Regions from separate parts of the Homo sapiens genome. Here region 2 is linked to region 1. A link means that fine-mapping ties the variant in region 1 to the expression of a gene that starts in the linked region. Tissue or cell type: subcutaneous fat. Region 1 holds a variant in brackets; the other region holds the start of a gene. All regions are shown on one strand. Distances are between the middles of the regions.

Region 1 (10,995 bases):
TCAACCAACAAGTAGAACAATACAATCACATATATGGATAAAAGGTAACAGCACAAACTTCAAATTACCTATGAATCGAAAAGGAAGCAACGAATCTATAGAGTTATACCTCAAGTCCCTGACCTATGCCTTTGCATAGAATGAGGGGAGACCCATAAAAGGATAAAGAAGAAAAGGAAAGACAGGGGTCAAAATTGGAACTAAAATAACCCAAGAAAGAGACAAGTCTATCATATGTGTAAAAAGAGCCCTGGGAGATTGGTAAATGGGAGTACAGAGCAGGGCCTAACAGTGAGTAGAGACAAAAACACTGATGTTAGAAAGGCATCATTTCTGGAAAGAAAGGAGGATAAAAAGGGGAGTGCAAGAAGGAAAAAGTATCCAGCAGGAAAAATGAGAACCCAAACCAAAAGACTATCCATCACTACTGCCATCAAGCACAAAAAAAGAAAAAAGTTATTCATTGAAAAAAAATCACACTATGCTACATTTTCAGAAGAGGTTTGCACTTGGACTAGAAAACACAAAATAATTAATAGATGAAAAAATGCCTATATAAATATCCAAAGCTTCTTTAAGAAGATAACAAACATGAAAGTCAAATATTTCAGCTAATGAAATCCACACCACTGAACGATAAAATCTCACAAAGCAAAAGAAAATTATGCAGAATTAAAAGTTGAATTAAATATCCTCAAACGAGCATTCAGAAATATTAAAAAAGCAATTTAAACAAGAAATTCAAAAACCAAGAACAGAAATGGGGAAAAAATCAGAAAGAAATAAAGAGTTTATTAGACACAGAAAGGGAATGAAAGAAAAGGAGAATATTATCAAAAATAAAAACGAAATCACAAGATGATTAAAAGAAAAGAAATTCAAATAAGTTAATGAAGGAATTGAAGTAAAGGCACTAAAACAATGATGAAGAATGAAAATGTTACCAGAGAAAGAAGTGAGAAGTATCAGAGAAAGTGGTAGAAATGGAAGAAAGGCACATAATTATAACTGGAGTGCCTGAAAAAAAAAAACACCACAGCAATGAATCAAAACTAGTGTTTAAATTATAATCCAAGAAAACTTTCCAGAAATAAAAGAAGACCTGAATAGGGATTTGGAAAGGATCCAGGGGGTACTGGAAAAAAATTAATCTGGTATGGTAAACTAACTCAAGACATCTTTCAGTAGAACTATGAAAAATGAAGAAAAATTTCTCAGAGCCTCCAGGCACAAAAGTCACATAATTTATAAGGGACAGAAGAATTTGGCTAGCATCAGACTTGTTAAAAGAAACATACAAACCAAAGCAGTGGTGTAGACGCATTTTTAAGAAACTTTAAAAAGTGAGAACCAAGGATTTTATATCTAGCCAATCTGTCATTCAAGTATAGATGTTATAAAAAAGGTTTCAAATATGCAATAATTGAGGAAATAATAGTAACCTTCTTAAATACAAAAAGTTTTAAAGAGAATCATATACAGGAACAAAGCAAATATAGTCAAATACACATAAAACTTACAACAAAGGTTTTCACATTATCTCACAAAGCAAAGACAGACTCAACTTATGCTACACAGGGAAGACAAATAAAAACAGATTCAGAAAGGTGAAAAATAGAATGATGGCAGCAAGCATGGCAGGCAAATACCATTTCCATATGGAAACTAAGGAAGACATTTAAAGCAAGCATAAGAAGCAAATTCATGGCCTCAAAAGCTTTATCAATAAAAATGAAAGAGTGAAAATAAATGAATTAAATCCTTGACTTAAAAATCTAAATAAAGAATAACGAAATAAAGTGAAAAAAGTACACAAAGGGAAATACTCATGAGAAGAATAGTCTACTATATTAACCCCTCTGTGTATCTGTTTTGCTGTTTTATATTTCTTCCCTATATTCTAGGATTCTTTCTTTCATTTCCTTTTTGTTTTCAGAAGTTTTTAAATTTTAAGTTCAGGCGTACATGTGCAGGATGTGCATGTTTGTTACATAGGTAAACGTGTGTCATGGTGGTTTCCTGCACCTATCAACCCATTACCTAGGTATTAAGCCCAGCATGCATTAGCTATTTTTCCTGATGCTCTCCCTCCCCACACCCTCCCCTGACAAGCCCCATTGTGTGTTGTTCCCCTCCCTGTGTCCATCTGTTCTCACTGTTCAGCTCCCACTTATAAGTGAGAGCATGTAGTGTTTGGTTTTCTGTTCCTGCATTAGTTTGCTGAGGATAATGGCTTCCAGCTCCATCCATGTCCCTGCCAAGGACATGATCTCATTTCTTTTATGACTGCATAATATTCCATGGTGTATATGTACCACATTTTCTTTATCCAGTCTATCATTCATGGGCATTTGGGTTGATTCCACACTATCAAAAAAGAGCTCATATAGCCAAGACAATCCTGAGCAAAAAGAACAAAGCTGGAGGCCTCAGGCTACCTGACTTCAAACCATATTACAAGGCTACAATAACCAAAACAGCATGCTCCTGGTACAAAAACAGGCACATAGACCAATGGAACAGAATAGAGAATTCAGAAATAAAACCACATATCTACAACCATCTGGTCTTCAACAAACCTGACAAAAGAACTTCAGTTAACCATTCTTTAAGGTTCTCTGCTAGCCACAAACTATCTTAATTTTCCTTGATTGGAGAATGTCTATTTCCCCTTCATTCCTAAAGGAAACATCCACTGGATATGTAATTCATCTTGACAAATGTTCTGCCACAACCTTCTGGCTTCCTTACTTTCACATGAGAAGTCTGCTACAATTTAAGTCAGTTTTGCCCTGTAGGTGATGTGTCATTTCTCCATACCTGCTTTCAAGATTTTTTCTTTTAGTTTTAAAAGTTAACTCATAATGTATCTTGGCATGGATTTCTCTGGGTTTGTCTTACTTGGGAATGGCTCAGGGTCTTCACTCTGCAGGTGTGTCTTTCACCAAATTTAGGATGTTTTTAGCAATTACTTCTTAAAATACTATTCAGCCCCACTCTCTTTTTCCACTCCTTCTGAAATTTTGATGATACAAATATTAGATCTTTTGATACTACACCATAGGTCCCGGAGGCTCTGTCCTTTTTCCTATGATTTTCTCTCAATTTAGATTGGGAAATTTCTATTGTTCTATCTTCAAGAGCACTGACTGCTTCCTCGGTAATATTCACTCCACTACCAAGTCCATTTACTGAATTTTAATTTCAGTTATTGTATTTTTCAGTTCTGTAATCACCAAGTTGTTCTTTAAAAAAAAAAAGACAATTCTTTGGTGACATTTTATAGCCTTTTCATTTGCTTCCAGAGTATTTAAAACTGCTCATTGAAGTGTTTTTATGATGACTGCTTTAAAACCCTTGTCAAATAATCCCCACATCCTATTCATCTCAGTGTTGACATCTGTTGATTGTCTTTTCTCATTCAAGTTGTTATTTTCTCCATTCTTGCTATGATGAGTGGTTTTTCTATTGTGTCCAGTACATTTTTTATATTATGTTAGAGACTGTGGATCCTATTTTAAATTTCTATTTCAGCAGACAGTCACTTTGTTTTTAGGTTTATCATGCAAGTCCTGGCCTACTTCTGTGTGCTATAGTTACAATGACAGTTTAGTTTTCAGAGTCTTTGCAGTGCTAGTGCTATTCTGGTCAGCTTGATTCATCTGGTGCCCTTGTGGTCCATCTCTGCCCCAAATCATGCTGCCGATGCAGGAAGAATGTACTTCCCATGTCCTGTTGCCATGAGGTGGAGGGTGAGAGACACCAGGATTGTGGGGTAGGAGGTCGGCAGAGAGCAGAGGGCTCTTTCCTGGGCTGCCTAGTCCTGGCAGGGCACCTGTTAGATCCCCGCTGCTGCTACCTGCATGGGCAGCCTCCCTGGAGGAAATAGTAGATACCAGACCCACAGCATGGAGAGTATTTCCCCGGACCCTCTTTCTGAGTGTCTTCTGCCACTGGATGGAGTTTCAGGAGATGGCAGCCTGTGGTTTTCTGTGAGTTCTGAGGTACCTAACTAGTCTGCCTTTCTATAGCATTGGGCTGGGATTGGAGCTACAGTTATGAAATCATGATTTCATACACACACACACGTGTGCACATACGTGCAGTGAAAGGGCCTAGAAACAAGGACACACTGGTAGTAATGAGTGCACATACCACTCAGGTCTTGGTTTCCAAATACCATTCTCCTCTAAAAGGAACCAGGGCTCCTTGGAAAAAATGGCTGATTCCAAGGCTAGCACGAGGAAAATCAAGAAAAGCCTGGAGCATTATAAATTTATAAAGACATGTCAAAGAGACATCCAGCTTAGGAACATTCAAAACGGCTAGGCCTGGAACTGATATTTGTGTATAACATATGGTTTTTCTCATATAGATAGACTATTCCAGCATCATTTAGTGAAAAGTGACCTGCAAGACAATCTTGCTGAAATTGCTTTGAATCTGAACATCAGCTGGGGAGAACTGCATTACATGAAACTTCATACACATAAATGTGTTTTATTTTTCTATTTGTCTTAGAATTATTAAAATAAATTTTCATACAAATACTATATGTATTTTGTTAGATTCATTCAGATTCTATGCATTTTTCTTCCTAATACATAAGGCATATTTTTAAAAAATGTTTTCTGTTTGTTGCCAAAGAATAGAAATGCAATTGATTTTTGAATATTAAACTTATATCTAGCCATGGTATTGAATTCTTCTAATTCCTAATAATTTGTCAATTATTTTATTCTTTCTAGGTAAATACTGATACTATAATAAATTTTCCTTCTGTTTCTTTCCTTTTCCTATTATTTACTTTTCTTGAATTACTAGGCTAGTTTGGACTTTAATAAAACGTGAAAAAGCACATTTAT[C/A]TTTATCTTGATTTTAAACAGAACACTCTAAATACTTTATTATAGGTAAGACTAATGACTGCTGAATAATTTTACAGGGTTGAGAAAACTGTTATTTCTACTGTGTTACATGTTTTCATTACAAATGGGTGTTCAATTTTATCAATTTTATTTTCTGCATCTAATGGGATGATCATAAGATTTTTTCTCTTTTAATCTGTTAGTGTGATAACTTACATTTTTTGATTTTCCAGAAATGTCTTTGGATTCCTAGAATAAGCCAGATGTATCACAAGTGGATTATCTGTATCACATATATGGCTGTTCTTGAGTTACTAATCTTTTATATTTTGTGTGTAAGGAATGTTTTTAATCTAGGTGAAATTTTGAATCTATGCTCACAAGTAAGAATATCCTTTCTCAAACTATCCTTATCTGGCCTTAGTACTGAGCTTTAGATTATCTTGGAGGTTCCATCTCCCTTCTTGTAATGATTCTTATGCCTCATGGCACACACAAAGTTCCCCTTTGTAAATTTCATACGCGCTCAATTCGATAATTATCTTGCCACCAAAAACTGGAGTCTCCCATTAAACAGTGAATTTGCTTCTATTGATGTTAAACTCTAAAATGAATCACTTAGCTCTAAAAATACCTTGTTCAGGTTGTGTGTAATAAATACTTACCTTTGCCAAAGATATACAGAGCTAAAAACAGAAAATAATACCTAGGGGGCTTAAAAAACATGTAAGCTGAACATTTGGTTAAATCTCAACTTTTCTCTCCTTAGATTTTTTGTTTCTTTGATATTCTTGAATTTAAAACTTACTCAATTCATGTTCTTTCCAGTCTACTACTGAAAATATTGTTGAAAATGAAGACAGTAAATTTTCCTTTGAGTGCAGCCTTGGCAGAATTTTTTTGATGTTTATGGACACCTTCTGTTTACTGTCATTTTTCAATAGTTTGCAAATGAAATTCTGAACTTCTTTTGAGTTGAATTATTAAATTGCTCAATTTTTCTGAAGTGAAAGAATTATATATTACAAGTGTAATGTCGACATGTGAATTTCTACAAAGTCTGCATGCCTAAGGACAGGTGGCCTGGGTAAAGAGTCAAATTGGTAGAACCAATAAAGAATAACAAAAAGACAAAAAAAGCATCATGTCATTCATTCAACAACTTAGTGGACATATCTTTCTATATTTTCACCACCTAAAGGATGGGAGAATGCCTCCAACAAGGAGAAAATAGCAACTCCTTCCATTTTGTTCTCTTGTATTGTGGGTAGGAACCTACCTCCTCAACTTGTAACATTTCCAGACTTATCCTCTCAATATATAACATGAAAACATACAGTTCATTTCTTCTGTCACCTAGGGTGGAGTGCAGCGGGGTGATCATGGCTCACTGTAACCTTCCTGGGCTCAAGCGATCCTCCCACCTCAGCCTCCTGAGTAGTTGGGATCACAGGCTCATGCCACCATGCCCAACTAGTTTTTCTATTTTTTGTAGAGACAGGGTTTTGCCATGTTGCCCAGGCTGGTCTCAAACTCCTGGGCTGAAGCCCTCTGTCCATGTTGGCCTCCCAAAGTGCTGTGATTACAGGCGTGAACCACTGTGTGTGGCCCAGGGTTTATTTTTTAATAGAAGTACATCACAGACCAGAGAAAAAGAATATCATCTGTCTCATATTAAGAGAATTTAAGAGTTGCACTACCTGCCTAATAACTTATATTACTAGGAAACCATGGAGGTAATACGGGCCATCCATCTGCATATTTGGGAAGAAGCCAAACAAAGATTAGGTAGTGGCTGAGTTCAAATTAGAAGGGGCTGGGAGACTGCAAGGAAAATGTTAAAAGGACAAAAGTAATAGAGTCTAAAGTTGGAAGCAGAAGGAAAGAGAGATAGACGATGGATAGATGCAGAGGAAAGAAAAGGAGAAAAGTGGAAAGAAACTACAAACCTGAGTTATGTTGAAGGAAAGTTTAACTGAAGCTAAAGAGAGAAACTCAAGACATACAAATTTTAAAAAGCAAGACTGTATGGATATAGCAGAATGAAACATAGAGGAAAAGTGGTCTGAAAGTTAGTTGTGAAATACGTGAGCTAACTTCTTGAAAATGATTTCTAGTCTTTGCTAAGGACTATTTCCTTACATATCTATCTACCTTAGATAGTAGCTATTTTTAAGACAGTAGCTATTTATTAAATATGTCATTAGCATTTTAAAGCATATTAACTGTGTTTAGTTTGTAGAAATAAAAAGTAGAATTTAAATAAACTGCATTAAAAACACTGAATCTTACCCAAAAGTTGAGTTCAGATACTCCCAGTTTTTAAATTTTATTTCCTTTAGAATTATTGCCTAAAATGCACATAAGGGAAAATGAAACAATTCAATTCAATTAACATTTATATTTTATATAAATGGTACATTCCAAAAATTACATAGTCACCCTGTTCCATCTCAGCTATCACCAGCCATTTTCCTCCTTAACTGTTTATTTTTCAAATTCTGGACATGGCAAATTTCCTTGAGGTAAGAGTTAAATGGTTTATGTGTCAAAAAGCTGCCTCTTGAATCAAGTTATTTCCTCACTTAGACAACCTGGCCATTTTCTGCAGGATAATTCCTCTACAAAGGTAAATGGTATGTGAGCAGATGAGAGCATCCATGCAAGTCTGTATGTGAGTTATCCAGCAACATTAGTGAACTAAACTAACATGTAAATCCTTCCTCTCCAAACTGCCAAATAAAATATTTAAACATGTTTAAAAAATGTATACTCATGTGAAAGAGAAGGAACTTCTGATGCTAGAAAAAAGATGAATTTTTAAAAATACAATATTCATTAGCAGAGAGCCACCACCCCTGGCAGTCTTTATAAGTGCCTGTAGAATAAGGTCACAACTATAGGCTTGTATTGTAAAGGGAGGGCAGCAGAAGAGGCCTTGGGTCTATGCAAGGTAAGAAGTTGGAATTGAGACTAATACATAAAGCTAGGGTCCTCAAAAACTATACCTGCAGTGCTATGGACTTGAGTATTTGTGTCCACCTCAAATTCATAGACTGAATCTTTAATCCCCAGTCTGATGGTGTTTGGAGGGTGGGCCTCTGGGAAGTAATTGAGTCATGAGGGTGAAACCCTCATGAATGGGATTAGTGTGTCCATATTACAAGAGACTAGAGAGTTGAGGTCTCTCTCTACCATGTGAGGACACAGTAAAAAGGCTTCTGTCTGCAAACCACAAAAAGGGCTTTCACCAAGAACCAAATCAGCTGGGACCTTGATTTTGAACAGCTCAGCCTCCAGAACTGTGAGAAATAAATTCCTGTTGTTTAAGCCATCCTGTCTGTGGTACTTTTGTTATAACAGCCCAAACTGACTTAAGACACACAGTGACTAAGAATACTTCACCTACCATCTCTACAAGTTGATAGGTTATTTTTTTATTCCCAAGTTTGGGGTGAAAATAGTGCTCACATGAGAAACTGAATTCTTGGACTTGTATATTATTTAGACTTGGATTCGAATTTTGTATCATTTAGTTGGTGTAGAAATTCCCAAAGTGAGCCAGGATTACTAAACTTCCAATAGGAAAATATAAATGTATCAGATTATTCATTGCAACATTGTTTGTAAATGCAAAATTTAGGAAACAACCTAAATGCCCAGATATAGGAGAGTGACTAAATTACAGTAAATCCAAAGCAGAACACTAGGAAACTACCAGAAAGAATGAGGAAAATCTCTACGAACTGATATCCAGAATAGGTTGTTAAATGAAAAAAAAAGTGCAAAAGACTATCTTTAATACAAGAAGAGGAGATTTAAAAAATATACATGTAACAGTTATTAGTACTCAAAAAAGCCCAACTAAATGAGGTCAACCAGAAAACTAGTAAGATTTCTTACCTACAGGGAATAGGCAGTAACAGGGTGAAAAGAAAGGTGGAGAGAATGGGCTGGAAGGAATAGTGGGGAATATTTTCTGAGTATAATTTTATATATATATATATTTCTTGGGAATATTTTCTGAGTATAATTTATATATATATATATATATATATATATATATATATATATATATATATATATATATATATATATATTTCTTCCTCATTGAAACATGGTAATGTTTCACCCAAAGTAACTAAAATCAATCAGAATGAAACTTCAGCTTCTGTCCAAGTTTGTATAACAGAAACCACATTTACTTTCTCACCCTAAAAACCTAAAATACCAAGCCAAATAGATTATAGAGACAGCTATGAAGAATTATATGCCAACAAATTAGATAATTTATAAGAAATAAATTTCTAGAAACGTACAACCAACCAAGAGTAAATTATGAAAACACAAAAAAACTCAACAGACCTATAACTAATAAATCAGTAATAAAAATTTTCTCAACAAAAGAAAACCTCAAACCAGATGGCTTCACTGGAGAATTCTATGAAACATTTAAATAAGAATTCACACCAATCCTTCTCAAGCTCTTCCAAAAAACTGAAGAGAACACTTCTATACACATTTTATGAGGCCAGCATTACTCTGATACCAAATCCAGAAAAAGATACTACAAGAAAACTACAGGCCAGTATCTCTGATGAATATAGCAAAACAAAACAAATATTTCTATTAAAAATGAGCAAAGGACTTGAATAAACATTTCCCCAAAGAATAAATACAAATGTCCAACAGGTATTTAAAATGATGTTCAACATCACTTATCATCAGGGAAATGTAAATCAAAACCACAATGAGATACCACCTCAAACCTGTTAGGATGGCCATTATAAAACAAACCAAACCAAAACTAAACCAGAAGTAACAAGTCTTGGCAAAAATGTAGAAAAATTGGAATGCTTATGTACTGTTGGTGGGAATATAAAATAGTGCAGCCAAAGGGCACACCAGGTAGTCTACACAGAAGAGTTTGTTTCAGAGTGCAGCAATATTAGCCACAAACTAACCACTACTTTAATTCCAGCTAACAGATCTTAAAAGCAAGACCCGAAAAGATCAGCCTATGTTCAAGCAACTTAACTGCATCACAGAAAAAAGCTCAAGAGTATCTATAGGAATAAGAAAATATCCAGCAGCTAAGAAGGTAAAATTCACAAAGCCTGGCATCCAAGTAAACATTGCCAAGCGTGCAAACACTCAAGAAAACACAACCTCTATATGAGGAGAAGAAACAATTAATTGAAACTGACACAGATGACAGAATTAGCAGGGGGAGGCACTGGGGCAGTTACTGTAACTGTATTACACATGGTGAAGAAGTGGTAACAGAGAGAGAACAAGTTAACTAGAGACAAAAAATACTTCAAAGATACAAAATGAACTTTTAGATATGAAAACTACAATGACTTAAATGAGAAATACACTGGATGTGATTAACAACAGGTTAGATACTGCAGAAAAACAACCAGTGAACTCCTGAAGACACAGCAATAGTAACTATCCAAAATTAAATAAAGAACAAAAATAAACATAGGCTCCATGAACCACTGAACATTTTCAAACAGCCCAATATGCATTTAATGAGAGTCCCTAAATGAAAGTGAGGGGGGAGGCAGAAAAAATTTGAAGAAATAATAGCCAAAATTTTTCCAAATTTGATAAAAATTGTAAACCTAAAGATCTAATGATCTAGGATTCATTTCAATGAATCCTAAATACAAGAAACATGAAGAAAGCTATAGTAAGGCACATTATATAAACAAACTGCTCAAAATCAGTGGTAAACAGAAAATCTTATCTCTAGCTGGGAACAGCTAGAGAAGTAACATATTATTTACAGACAAAAGCATAGGGATGTCAACAGATTTCATAAGAAAAAAATGCAAACAAGACAAGTCAAGCAGCATCTTTTAAATTCTTTTTATTTTATTTTATTTTATTATTATTATACTTCAAGTTTTAGGGTAAATGTGCACAATGTGCAGGTTAGTTACATATGTATACATGTGCCATGCTGGTGTGCTGCACCCATTAACTCGTCATGTAGCATTAGGTATATCTCCTAATGCTATCCCTCCCCACTCCCCCCACCCCACAACAGTCCCCAGAGTGTGATGTTCCCCTTCCTGTGTCCATGTGTTCTCATTGTTCAATTCCCACCTATGAGTGAGAA
Region 2 (10,995 bases), 94 kb before region 1:
CTGGTTCTGTAAATTACCTCTGATTTTATCTCACTTTCTAACCCGTGTGTTCCCTTTACCTCAGTTTCATTATCTATTAATTTTATGTTGTTTGCTATTTTTGTAAACTCCTTGAACACTTTATGGAACACGGAACATTTAAGGCAAACAATTTTTAAAAGCATCAGATCATCATCATCATCATCATCATCATCATCATCATCATAATGGCTAATTGACTGAACATTGCTATGAATGAGGCACTGTCCTAAGTACCAAATCTATCTTATGGCTGGGCAAGGCAGATCATGTCTGTAATCCCAGCACTTTGGGAGGCTGAGGCAGGAGGATCGCTTAAATCCAGGAGTTTGAGACCAGCCTGGGCAGTATAGTCAGATCCTGTCTCTACAAAAAATAAAAAAAAATTAGCCGGGCATGGTGGCACGTGCCTGTAGTTCCAATTCCTCAGGAGGCTGAGGTGGGAGGATCACTTGAGTGTGGGAGTTGGAGGCAGTAGTGAGCTGTGATCAAACCACTGCACTCCAGCTTGGGCAACAGAGCAAGACCCTATCAAAAAACAAAAAAACAGAATAAATCTATCTTATTAGCCTTAAACATGAGATAAATACTATTATTATCCTCATTTTCTAGATGAGAAAACCAAAACACAGAGAGGTTAAGTAATTTGTCCAAGATCATACAGCAAATAAATGATGCATGTAAGATTCATGCAAAATAGTCCAGGGATTCTGACTTACATAAGTTATACAAAAGAATAAATAATTTCTTAAAGAAGCAGAGGCTTTTTGATTTTATAGGCTGAGCCCTAAAGGAGATAACTATTGGAAATCTCATCCATACAGTTATGCCTGATGGAGCCATATTAACAAAAGGGAATGAGACAGTGAAAGTTAAAACAACAGATAAAACACAACAAATAATTGTCTTTTGATCTTGGAACATACTTCCAGATATTCATTCATTCATTCATTCATTCATTCATTCACTCACACAATTACTGATTCCTCCACTTACACAGTCCTTTAATTCATTCAACAACCTTTAGGGAGTACCCCTCACTTGCCAGGCATGGGGCAGGTGCTATGCTGGGAATGGAGATGAACACAGTTCCTGCCTTCCAGGAGCTCAGGTGCAATAAGAGAGAGTCAGGTAGGTTGGGGACACCTTGGGGTTATGAGTGGGTTGATAAAAGACCACAGCAGGGTGCAACATGATCATTCTGAGAGTAAGTCAGCCTTCGGCTTCTGTCTCCCCTTTGATAAAGGAGTATGAAGAATCAGCTCCCTATAGGGCTGCTGTAGTGATGTCCTACATATAAAGCTCTTAGCCTAGCCCCGGGCAGGGCTAGCTAGTCATTAGCTCTTAAGGAACAGTGGATGGCAACCTGGGCACCTTGCTCAGACACACATGTGCACTCACACAGACACACGTCCTCAGAAACTCAAGCACTGAGACTGGCTACTGCCTCCTCCTAGCTAACCAAGAGCTGACTCTCACAGTCCATGTGCAGGCCTGGCACTCTCTCCTGGATGCCACCATCCTAGATGCGGTGTTAGCTGGAAAACACCACCCACATAGGATGAACATTCCTTCAAGATGCACTTGAAAATCTTCCTCCACAGTGCCTGGCCCACATAATGCCCGCTGGGCATTTTTGTCACGTTTACTCTGCTTTAGTTTACCTCCTTGGCACTTGAACACCGCAGTTCACTACACAATTCCCCTGCTGCATAATGGTCGGGTTCCCTCTTGAACAGGTCTAAGGAAAGACGCAGCTAGAATTGCAAAAGGGGAGTTTCAAGTGCCCTACTGGCTGAAGCCAGTGAGAAAACACGTGTGCTGCCCCTGCCCAGCATCGGCTGGGGAAAGGCATGCCTCTTCGGTTTTGTACAGTGGCTAAATAAAAAGCAATTAATCACTTTCTCACCAACCCTAACTCATATTTAATAGTTCCCCTCGAAGTTTGTTTTGTCATGCTGTCGGCAAAGTCAGTCAAACATTACGATTCTTTTCTAAATATTCCAGCAGCCAGATGGCAGAAGCACCACTGTGACAAGGCAAACTTGCCTAAAGATAACTTTGTGATGCAGAACCATGCTCGATGGCACTGGGCTGAGGGGACTCACCCAGAGCTATTTCTAAATTGCTCCCCTTAACCCACGTTCTTTACACCAAAACTTCCTAAGACAAACATTCAACTCTGCAACTTGAAACTGGTGGTAAAACAAAGACGTTTCTACCTCTTTAAGTTCGGAATATTAGGCAGAAAAATAAAATCACTAGAAGACCACACATCAGGACAAAGTTCTCAGGATTTCTCCGTAGATTTAAGGCTACTGTACCCTAATGTTTCAAATATTTCTGCACCAAAGTTCATATATATTAAATATTTATAACACATTTGCTAGAAAACACATTTCCTTCCTTTTGCTGAGTTATTTGTGTAGGTTTCTTTTTTAAAAACTTCAACATTAATAAACATATTTATAAATTCTAGAATGTAAAAAAGTTGACTGCCATCCTGGTGAAAATTCTATGTTTCCCTCTACTGTTAATCACATTTTGTTTTCTCGGATCTTTCCTAGGTTATATTCTTTATTCTTTGTGTATGTGTTGGAGTGACTGCAAACTCGCAACCTGTACTATATGGTTTCTGAACAATAAGTCTCCTAAAAAGAGCGTTGCCAGGCTAGACCAGCTGGCTTTCCCCTGTTCTTATAACTGTATGTTCTTAGACACACACACACACACACACACACACACACACACTTCCTCCATTCCTTCTGCTGCTGGGTAACTGCAATCTGTGACACAATGTCACACTCACAATTACGTGAAAACAGAGACTCCTAAAGGAACAAAAAGGGGGCAATGGCAGGAAGCCAGCCTACAAGTGTCTGTCACCCTGACCGCTCTGCCCCGATTCAGGTGGCCACAAATTGCCTGTTGAAGGTTGCCTGTCTAGAATTTGAAGTCTGTGTGCCCAGGCTGTTACCCTGAGTAAGTAATTTAACCTCTGTGACCTTTTATTTTCTCATCTGTAAAAAAGGCACAATAACAATATCTCTGTTAAAGAATTGCTGCGAATCACAGGAGGTGATGCACATAAAGGCATCTGCAGTGTATGTTTCATTTCCAGTTACTTCTTAACTTTCTTTTGCCCCTCCTCGCCACTTCTTTTCTGATTTGGTTTTTGTGGTTTTTAAATGTATCTTTGAAATGCATTAGCTGGAAAACTGCAGCAATCTGTGTGTTACCACAATGAGTGGACTTTAGCATCACATTTTTATTTACTTTTTCACTGAGGTAGAATTTACGTTAAGTGCACAAGTCTCAAGGGTATAACTTCAGTAATTCTTAGGTCAAGGTGAGAAGCATTTCTAGCATCCCAGAAGCCTCCCTCATGTCCTGTCCAGGTATTGACCTGGAGTTTATCTCCTTGCAAGGCCCAAAAACAACCTCTCCTCTGACCTCTTTCGTAATGATAAAGTTAAAAAAAATTGAAGGGAGGCAGGAGTCCCAGTGATAACTATTAATGCTGGGCACAAGAAGTGCACTCCCAGTCCTCCCTGTGAAGTGAGAAAAGATTCTGGAAAGGAGGAGGCGGAGGGGCACAAACCTTCTAAATCACACTGGTCATGCCAAACAAGGCCCTCATTTACAGCCAAGGACCCCAGGCACAGAGGCGAAGAGACAGCCTAACTTCCTGCTACAGAGTAACTTTCCTCCCCAATACAGCCAGTTACAAAGCGCCCTGAGTGTCAGGGATTGGCCACACTGTCCCAGGGCGCATGGAACCGCTCTCCTGGCCTTTCCCTGCAGAAACTTCTTTCCAGAGGGAGGCGCACACACGGTCCCCACGCCGCCCCGGCGCCCGCCACGGGCACACCCACGCGGCTGGCACGCCACCCTCCAAAGGCGCTGTTCCTGAGAGCCGGTGCCTGCCTGCCCACGGGGCCCGGGCGGCGCTCCTCCAGGTCCAGGGCGGCCGGGTGCCCGCCCTCCCCGCCACCTTCAGAGAGTGCGTGTCAGGGGCTGGGGGAAATCTGCTCTGCCACCTACCTACCCACCACCTAATCCTCCAAAGGACCCTAAACCCATTTGTGGCCAAATGTACATTGCTGGAGCACAGTCTGACTACTGACCCCAGGGGCTTGGAGATGAGCACGGGAGGGGTGTCCAGAGACCTGCGCTCTGTCCCCATGAGCTGTGTGACCTTGGACAAGTCACTTCACATCTCTGGAGTTGGCTTCCTCACTAGGGGGCTCCTTCTGTATTCCCCAAGCCACCTCCGGCTCTGCAATTTCCTAGCTCTCTTTTACTCCGCCCCAGCCCTTCCCGCGACAGCCCCCTCCCCAGCGAGACCCCAGCCTTTTGTTCCGGGGGCGAAGCGGAGAAGAGAGAGCGTCGCGAAGGACCAGGCCGAGGCGGCCTCGGTGCCAGGGGCTGCTCACCGGGGAGTCCAGTCCGGAGAAGTCACCAAGCAACCCCGTGGTGACCTCGCTCCCCACCCCGCGGTTTGTTTCCGCCCGGCCCGGCCCGGCCCGGCCGGGGCGGCGTGGCAGGGTGCGGGTGGGGGGCGTGAGCGCCGCGCGGCACGTCGACAACCTCCTGGGCCCGGGGCTGCAGCCCGGCGGGGGTTCCCCGGCCCTCCCACGCCCTCAGGATCTCTGTCCCGGGCCGGGCCACTCTGCTCCGGGACCGACCAGGGCGGCGGCCGCCACACCGCCCGTTCCTTCCACCCTCGGGCACCGACCCGCACCCGCGCGGGAAGCCGCTACCTGCAGGTGGCGGAGCCGGGGGCTGGACTGGACTCGAGCTCCGGCCGACGTCTCCGCCGCCGCCGCCTCCGGCTCCGGGCTCCGTCCCGCAGCGCCCGTGCTCCAAGCGGCGCCGCTACCGCCGAGCTGCGCTCGGTGCGCCCGGCTCGCTCCCCGGCCACCGGCTCTGGTGCTGCCGGGACGCGGAGGCGGGGCCGCCGCCCCCACCTGCTCGCAGGCTCCTGCCTGGGAGCCGCCGCCGCCCCGCGGCAGGGACACGGCCCCGGCGGGCGGGGTCGCTCTGGGACCCTGGAGGCGGGTCCCAAGTCGGCGGGCGCGCCTCCCGGGTACAGAGTCCCAAGTCTCAGCTGCGGAGAGACTGAGGCCTAAGGCTGGAATTCCCCAAATAGGAGCTGTTGCGCGGGCGGCACACGGCCCAGCACAGCTACTCTGGGGACACGCCACTCCTTGAATTTATTCCAAAATGTTGAGCCCTTACTAAGCTCCAGGCGGTGTCATAAGCGATGGGGACGAGAGAACAAGATTACCTCTTGCCCTCGTGGAGTTCACAGTCTAGAAAAGGAAAGCGACCAATGGGCGATTACAGCACAACCAAGAGGAGGCAGAGGCCTCCTGAGCCGGCTCCCAGAGGGAGCACCTGATCTAAACTTGGGGTGGGGAGTAGGTCAGGGAGGGCTTCTTGAGGAGCTGACGTCGACGAGAAAAACTGAAGACTGAGTGTGAATTAGCCAGGTGATGAGAGAATTATCCGGGTAGCCTGGGGAGGTAGATTGATGTCCCAGGTAGAGTCGAAGGGAGGAGAAAGCAGACTGAAAACTGAAATAGGGCCGGGCGCGGTGGCTCAAGCCTGGAATCCAAGGACTTTGGGAGGCCGAGGTGGACGGATCACTTGAGGTCAGGAGTTACTAGCCTGGCCAACATGGTGAAGCCCTGTCTCTACCAAAAAATACAAAAGTTAGCCGGGTGTGGTGGCGCTCTCTAGTCCTAGCTACTCGGGAGGCTGAGGTGGAAGGATCTCTTGAACCCAGGAGGCAAAAGTTGCAATGAACCACTGCACTCCAGCCTGGGCGATAGAGTGAGACCCTGTCTCAAAAAACCAAACCAAACCAAACAAAGAAACAAACAAAAACAAACCTGAAATAAGCTTGAAGAACGGAAAACCTTGCTTCTGTCACATTTCTTGTTCAGGCCCTTGGAGGATGCAGAAAGTTTGTGTCCGAGGCTGAATGCATTGCTGTAGGTGCTGAGATCATTGGGTGAGGATTCTGTATTGCCCATGTCCTGGGCATTCCTGCTAGTGGAGGAGCTAAGCGGGTACTCGTGGACTGTTCACTCAGCCTCGGTGTTTGAGTATCTGCCATGAGCCAGACACTCTGCAGGGCCTCAGGGCAAGGTGTCTAACTCTAAAGTTGCTGCTGGTCTGGAATAGAGGAGAAACCTGGCGCTCAGCGCTGTGCTGAGGCTTGTGTGAAATGTTGGGGACCCAGGTGAGGGAGCAGCCAATGCCAGCAGGGAAGATCTCACACGTGGATTGCAGCCTGTATTCAGGTTCAAGTTCTGTAGTGGCTGCTGTCAAAGTATGTTCCCCAAGCAGCCCTTAGCTGATCTCTTAATTACTCATGTTTGTAGCTGGGCAATGTGTCGAAAGCAAGGATTAATAATACACTTTTGATGTCTTTCACTCCAGTGTCGTCAAGAACATGGTTTTCTCTTTTGATTTAGGTGACGAAAGGTCTATGTGTAGTGAGTGGAAGCTGATGAGGCACTTGCTTTCCACCTGTTTGTCCTGAGTTCCTCTTGCCCTTTCCTCCTTTAGAATCATAATAGATGACCACAGGTATGGAACCTGAAGAACAGTTCTCCAACATAAAATTCATAAGCCCTCTTACATGGGTGATTGTTACTAAAACAAAAACAAAACCCAAAACCCCAAAACATGACCCAGCCACTCTCCTTCTCTGGACCTCCAGTGCTAAAGCTCACTAAATACATAACCACTAGTATTCTAATTCAAAAAGGAAGAAAAGTCAAACTATTAGAGAAGACATTGCCATGGGCCTAGAGAGTTCCCATCAGATCTCCTGAGCAGCCCAAGCATGAGCCAGTTGGATGGAAAGCCTGTTATTTATCTCAAGAGATGCTGGATTGGATCAAAGAATTTGTTTTTTAAAATGCCTGGTTGTAGGGATGGGGAGGTGGTGAGTGAGGAATCAATTTGGACATTTGGGGCTGAAAGCTTCAAGAGGCATTCCATTCAGGTGATCAGTGTTTTCTATCCATGTGAAGTAACAATACCATTAGCATCTTGTTCCTACGGACATTAGGGAGGGATTCATTTCCACCTAGCTCCACTAAGACAAATTGACTTCAAGAAGGCACTAGCTCTTCCTAGTAGATGGTACTTGTTCAGTGGCAGACACTGTGAATTGTCTTCCCAATTATCAGTCTATTCTCCACTTCTTCCTTAGTGACAGAACCCAGGATTATGATTGATCCAAGACGACCATGACAATCCCCTTCCTGATTTCCCAGTCTTTCTTACAGCTAAGGAAGTCATTGACCCAGTTCTAGCCAATGAGTTGAAAGAAGGGTCTGGTGGGGGAGCCTCTGAAAAATTTTTTCTGGTTCTGTCTTTCCTTTTCCCTCTTTTCTTTTTTCTTTTTTTTTTTTTAGACAGAGTTTTGCTCTTGCTGCCCAGGCTGGAGTACAATGGCACCATCTTGGCCCGCTGCAACCTCCGCCTACGGGGTTCAAGAGATTCTCCTGCCTCAGCCTCCTGAGTAGCTGGGATTACAGGCGCTTGCCACCATGCCCAGGTAATTTTTGTATTTTTAGTAGAGGCGGGGTTTCACCATGTTGGCCAGGCTGGTCTCGAACTCCTGACCTCAGGTGATCTGCCCACCTTGGCTTCCCAAAGTGTTGGGATTATAGGCGTGAGCCACCGCGCCCAGCCCATTTCCCACTTTCTTTATGATTTGAATGCAAATGAAATGCCTAGTAATGCTACAACCAGATTGCAATCAAGAGCCAAAGACTGTGAGGCCAAAAGGTCAATATAATTGGGACAACACACTGGGAAATAGAGTCAGTGTGGTATCACTGCGCACTTGAGCCAAAGTGTGCAACTGTCCACCTCTGGATGGACTATATCCTATGTGAGAAAAATAACCCATGTTTGTTTCAGCCTCTGAGAATTCGTTTTCTAATTTTGCAGCCAAATGTATTCCTAACTTATACTATGACCTGGTAAAGAGCAAAAACCTCCTCTTTTCTTCTCTTCACTCACCAAGTGTCTGCAATAGCTCACCTTTCACACCTTCCACTTGCAAACATATATTTATATCTGTTCTGTAACTTCTTGAGCTCTTCAGGAGAAAGGCACTCCAGAAATATTAAGTGTTTTGTACACATGTGCTCACTTCAATCTCTCAAATATGTACAGATCAGCTATTTTCTGGTGATACTGCACTGGTGCTAGGGGTGCAAAGATGAATTCACAGCCCTGCCCCCCAGGAAGCCAACAGCTTAGTAGAGAACACAGCTTGTGAAGAGAATATTGCAATTTTGGGTAGGAGAGGAGCTTGTGCTGTAGAGAGAGCTGATACAGGAGAAGAAATGATGAACTATCTGTAGAAAAGGAGGGAGCCTGCAAGACCTGAGTTGGGCATCCATTAATGAATGGAGTTTCTCCTGTCAGAAAGTGGGGAAGGGAGGGCATTTCAGGGAAAAGAAAGTCTGAAAGAGCTTGGTGGTTTAGGAGCCTCAAATGCTACAGGTCTGGAACCACACTTCAGGTCTTCCTTCCAAACCTGACCCACTCTGTTGCCCATCCCCCAATGCCCCCCACCCCCCGCCATCTAGTTGGACCACCCAGAAATTTTGTAAAGCTACTTTTCCCCCATCAACCCTCCTTGAGGTTGAGCCTGTTGAATCTGTCCAATTTTGCCCATCTGTACCACCAGCTGAGACTAGAGCCCATCATCACCTCTCTCCAGGACTTTCCCAGGAACCTGTTAGCTTTTCCCTCTGTAATCATATGCCACTTCTCTCTTCTAAAGCATTCTCCCCAGTGTGGCCGGGGAGAGCGTCTTGAAACCCAAAGCTGATCTTATCAATTCACATTATCTGTAGTTCAATGAATTCTCATTGCTCTGATGATAAAACCAAGATCCCGAGCTTTGTCTGAAGGCCCTCATGACCTGGCCTGACCCACTCTCCAACGCACCTTTCTCAGTCCTCCCCTCCATCTCTGTCCTCCAGCCATGTTGCCCTGCTTTCAGATCCTTTGACAGCAATATTCCTTCGTGTCACAGGCTTTTTGAATGTGCTCTTCCCTCTTTGTGAAGAAGACCCCAAGTGTCAACTCCTCTCCATCTTTCAGATCTCAACTAAACCTTGCCACAACTTATCTGAATCTCAGCTAGGTCACCCTCTTCTATAAGCTCTCAAAACCTCATGTACCTTTCTTTTGTGCATTTATTACAGTTGTATGATGACAATATCTGTTTAATGATGTAACATTTGTCCTCCAGGCTAGACTGTGGTATTCATGACCTCAGGAACCATCTCTGTCACCTTTGTATCCTTATCTCACAGCACAGAGGCTAGCACATAGTAGGTACTCAATACACATTTGTTGAGTTCTGAAAGAAATGAATAAATTAGGGTTGGGGACTGGAGCTACATATCTGAGGGTTTGTAACGTTTCTCAAAAAAAGTTTATATCAACTTTACTAAGGGATAATGTCATACAATAAAACGCACTCCTTTTAAGTGAACAGTTTAATGAATGCTGACAAATGTTTACTCTGATATAACCACCACCTTTATCAAGGTATAGACTATTCCATCTCCAAGAAAGTTATCTTATCCCCCTTTGCAGTCAGTCCCTATGCCCAGCCCCATGCAACTGAAATGAGAGAGCTCCCTGACCCCCTTGTGGGATGTGAGGCAGGGGTGTGGCTCATTTGTTTGGCCACTGCACACTCAAACTTCTTATGGGATGGGGAGCAGATGGGCAGGTGCAGGAGCCAGGGCAAGTGCTTTTGGGCTCTGGGCCCATAGTAGCATCTAGGGGTGGATGCCTGTGACTCCTAAAGCCCCAGTGGGCATATTACAGTGCTCTTTTAGCTCTGCTGTCTGCAGATGGCCTAAGTGTTAACCAGCTCAGTACCCTCTTGGTACCCAGGTTTTTGCCCAGCATCCAGGAAGAATCAGGTCACATGGACAAATTGAGGGACAGTAAATGTGGGGGATTTTATTGCTGGATGGGAGTGGCTCTTGGTGGGATGGATGGAGCTGGAAAGGGAATGGAGTGTGAAGATGATCAACCATGGAGTTTGGCCGTCCTGCAGCCGATCTCCTCTCCGACCGTCCCCAGCTGAACTCCTCTCGATGGTCAGACCCTCCTCTTATCTCCTTTGCTGCTCTGCTCTGCCGCTCTTTTGCTCCTCTGCTCTTTTGCTCATGGGGTTTGGGGTTTATATGGGTACAGGATAGAATGATGTGGCAGGCCAGAAGGCAACATTTGGGCACAAAACCAGGAATGTCTATTCCCATTTAGGGCCGCAGGTTTCCAGGCTTGAGGGTGGGGCCTTTGCTGGGGAACTGCCCTCTTTTATCCAGTACCTCCCTGCCTCCTGTCAGTATCACAACCACGGAGCTATTACTGTGGATTAGTTTTGTCTTTTCTGGAGCTTTGTGTACTAGAATCATACATGAAGAACTATTTTGTCCTGACTTCTTTCACTCAGCCTATGTGATTCACCCATGAGTTATGTGTTATATGTAGTTTATTCCTTTTTACTGCTGATTGGTATTTCATTGTATGGATATGCCAGTATTTGTTTAATCCATTTACCTTTTGGTGGACACTTAGTTTGTTTCTAGTTTTTTTTGATATTACAAATGAAGGTGCTTTGAATATTTGTGTACAAGTCCTTTTGCAGATAAATGCTTTTATTTCTCCATGGTAAATACTTAGGAATATAGTTTTAAGAATCATTAACATTTAAAACAAAGATAAAACCTTAGAACCACACTGAGATACTACTTCACACCCACTAAGATGGCCATAATTTTTGAAAGTGTTGGCAAGAATGTGGAGAAGTTGGAATCCTCATACATTACTGGGGAGAATATAAAATGGTACAGCTGCTGTGGAAAATAGTTTGGCAGTTCCTCAAAAAGTTAAACATAGAACTTCCATAGGACC

Alleles and levels. Alleles are on the strand shown, and positions count from the first base shown. SD is a standard deviation of normalised expression in the study named.
For the expression in subcutaneous fat of the gene that starts at base 4,952 in region 2, A is the high allele of the variant in region 1 and C is the other (small effect, 0.39 SD a copy in GTEx).

The links. PIP is the estimated chance that this variant, and not a neighbour inherited with it, causes the effect.
Region 2: it holds the start of WIPF3, and the variant in region 1 is fine-mapped to the expression of WIPF3 in subcutaneous fat (GTEx, PIP above 0.99).

Annotation. Positions count from the first base shown.
Region 1 is chr7:29,706,235-29,717,229 of GRCh38, reverse strand. It overlaps the pseudogene DPY19L2P3. Among named protein-coding and RNA genes, the nearest start is that of MIR550A3HG, 27 kb to the right of the region's middle. The variant C/A (reference allele first, on the strand shown) is at 4,866.
Region 2 is chr7:29,800,465-29,811,459 of GRCh38, reverse strand. WIPF3 (WAS/WASL interacting protein family member 3) reads right to left here and starts at 4,952. Exons shown (of 9, transcript NM_001080529.3): 1 at 4,782-4,952. RefSeq lists an enhancer at 4,307-5,216.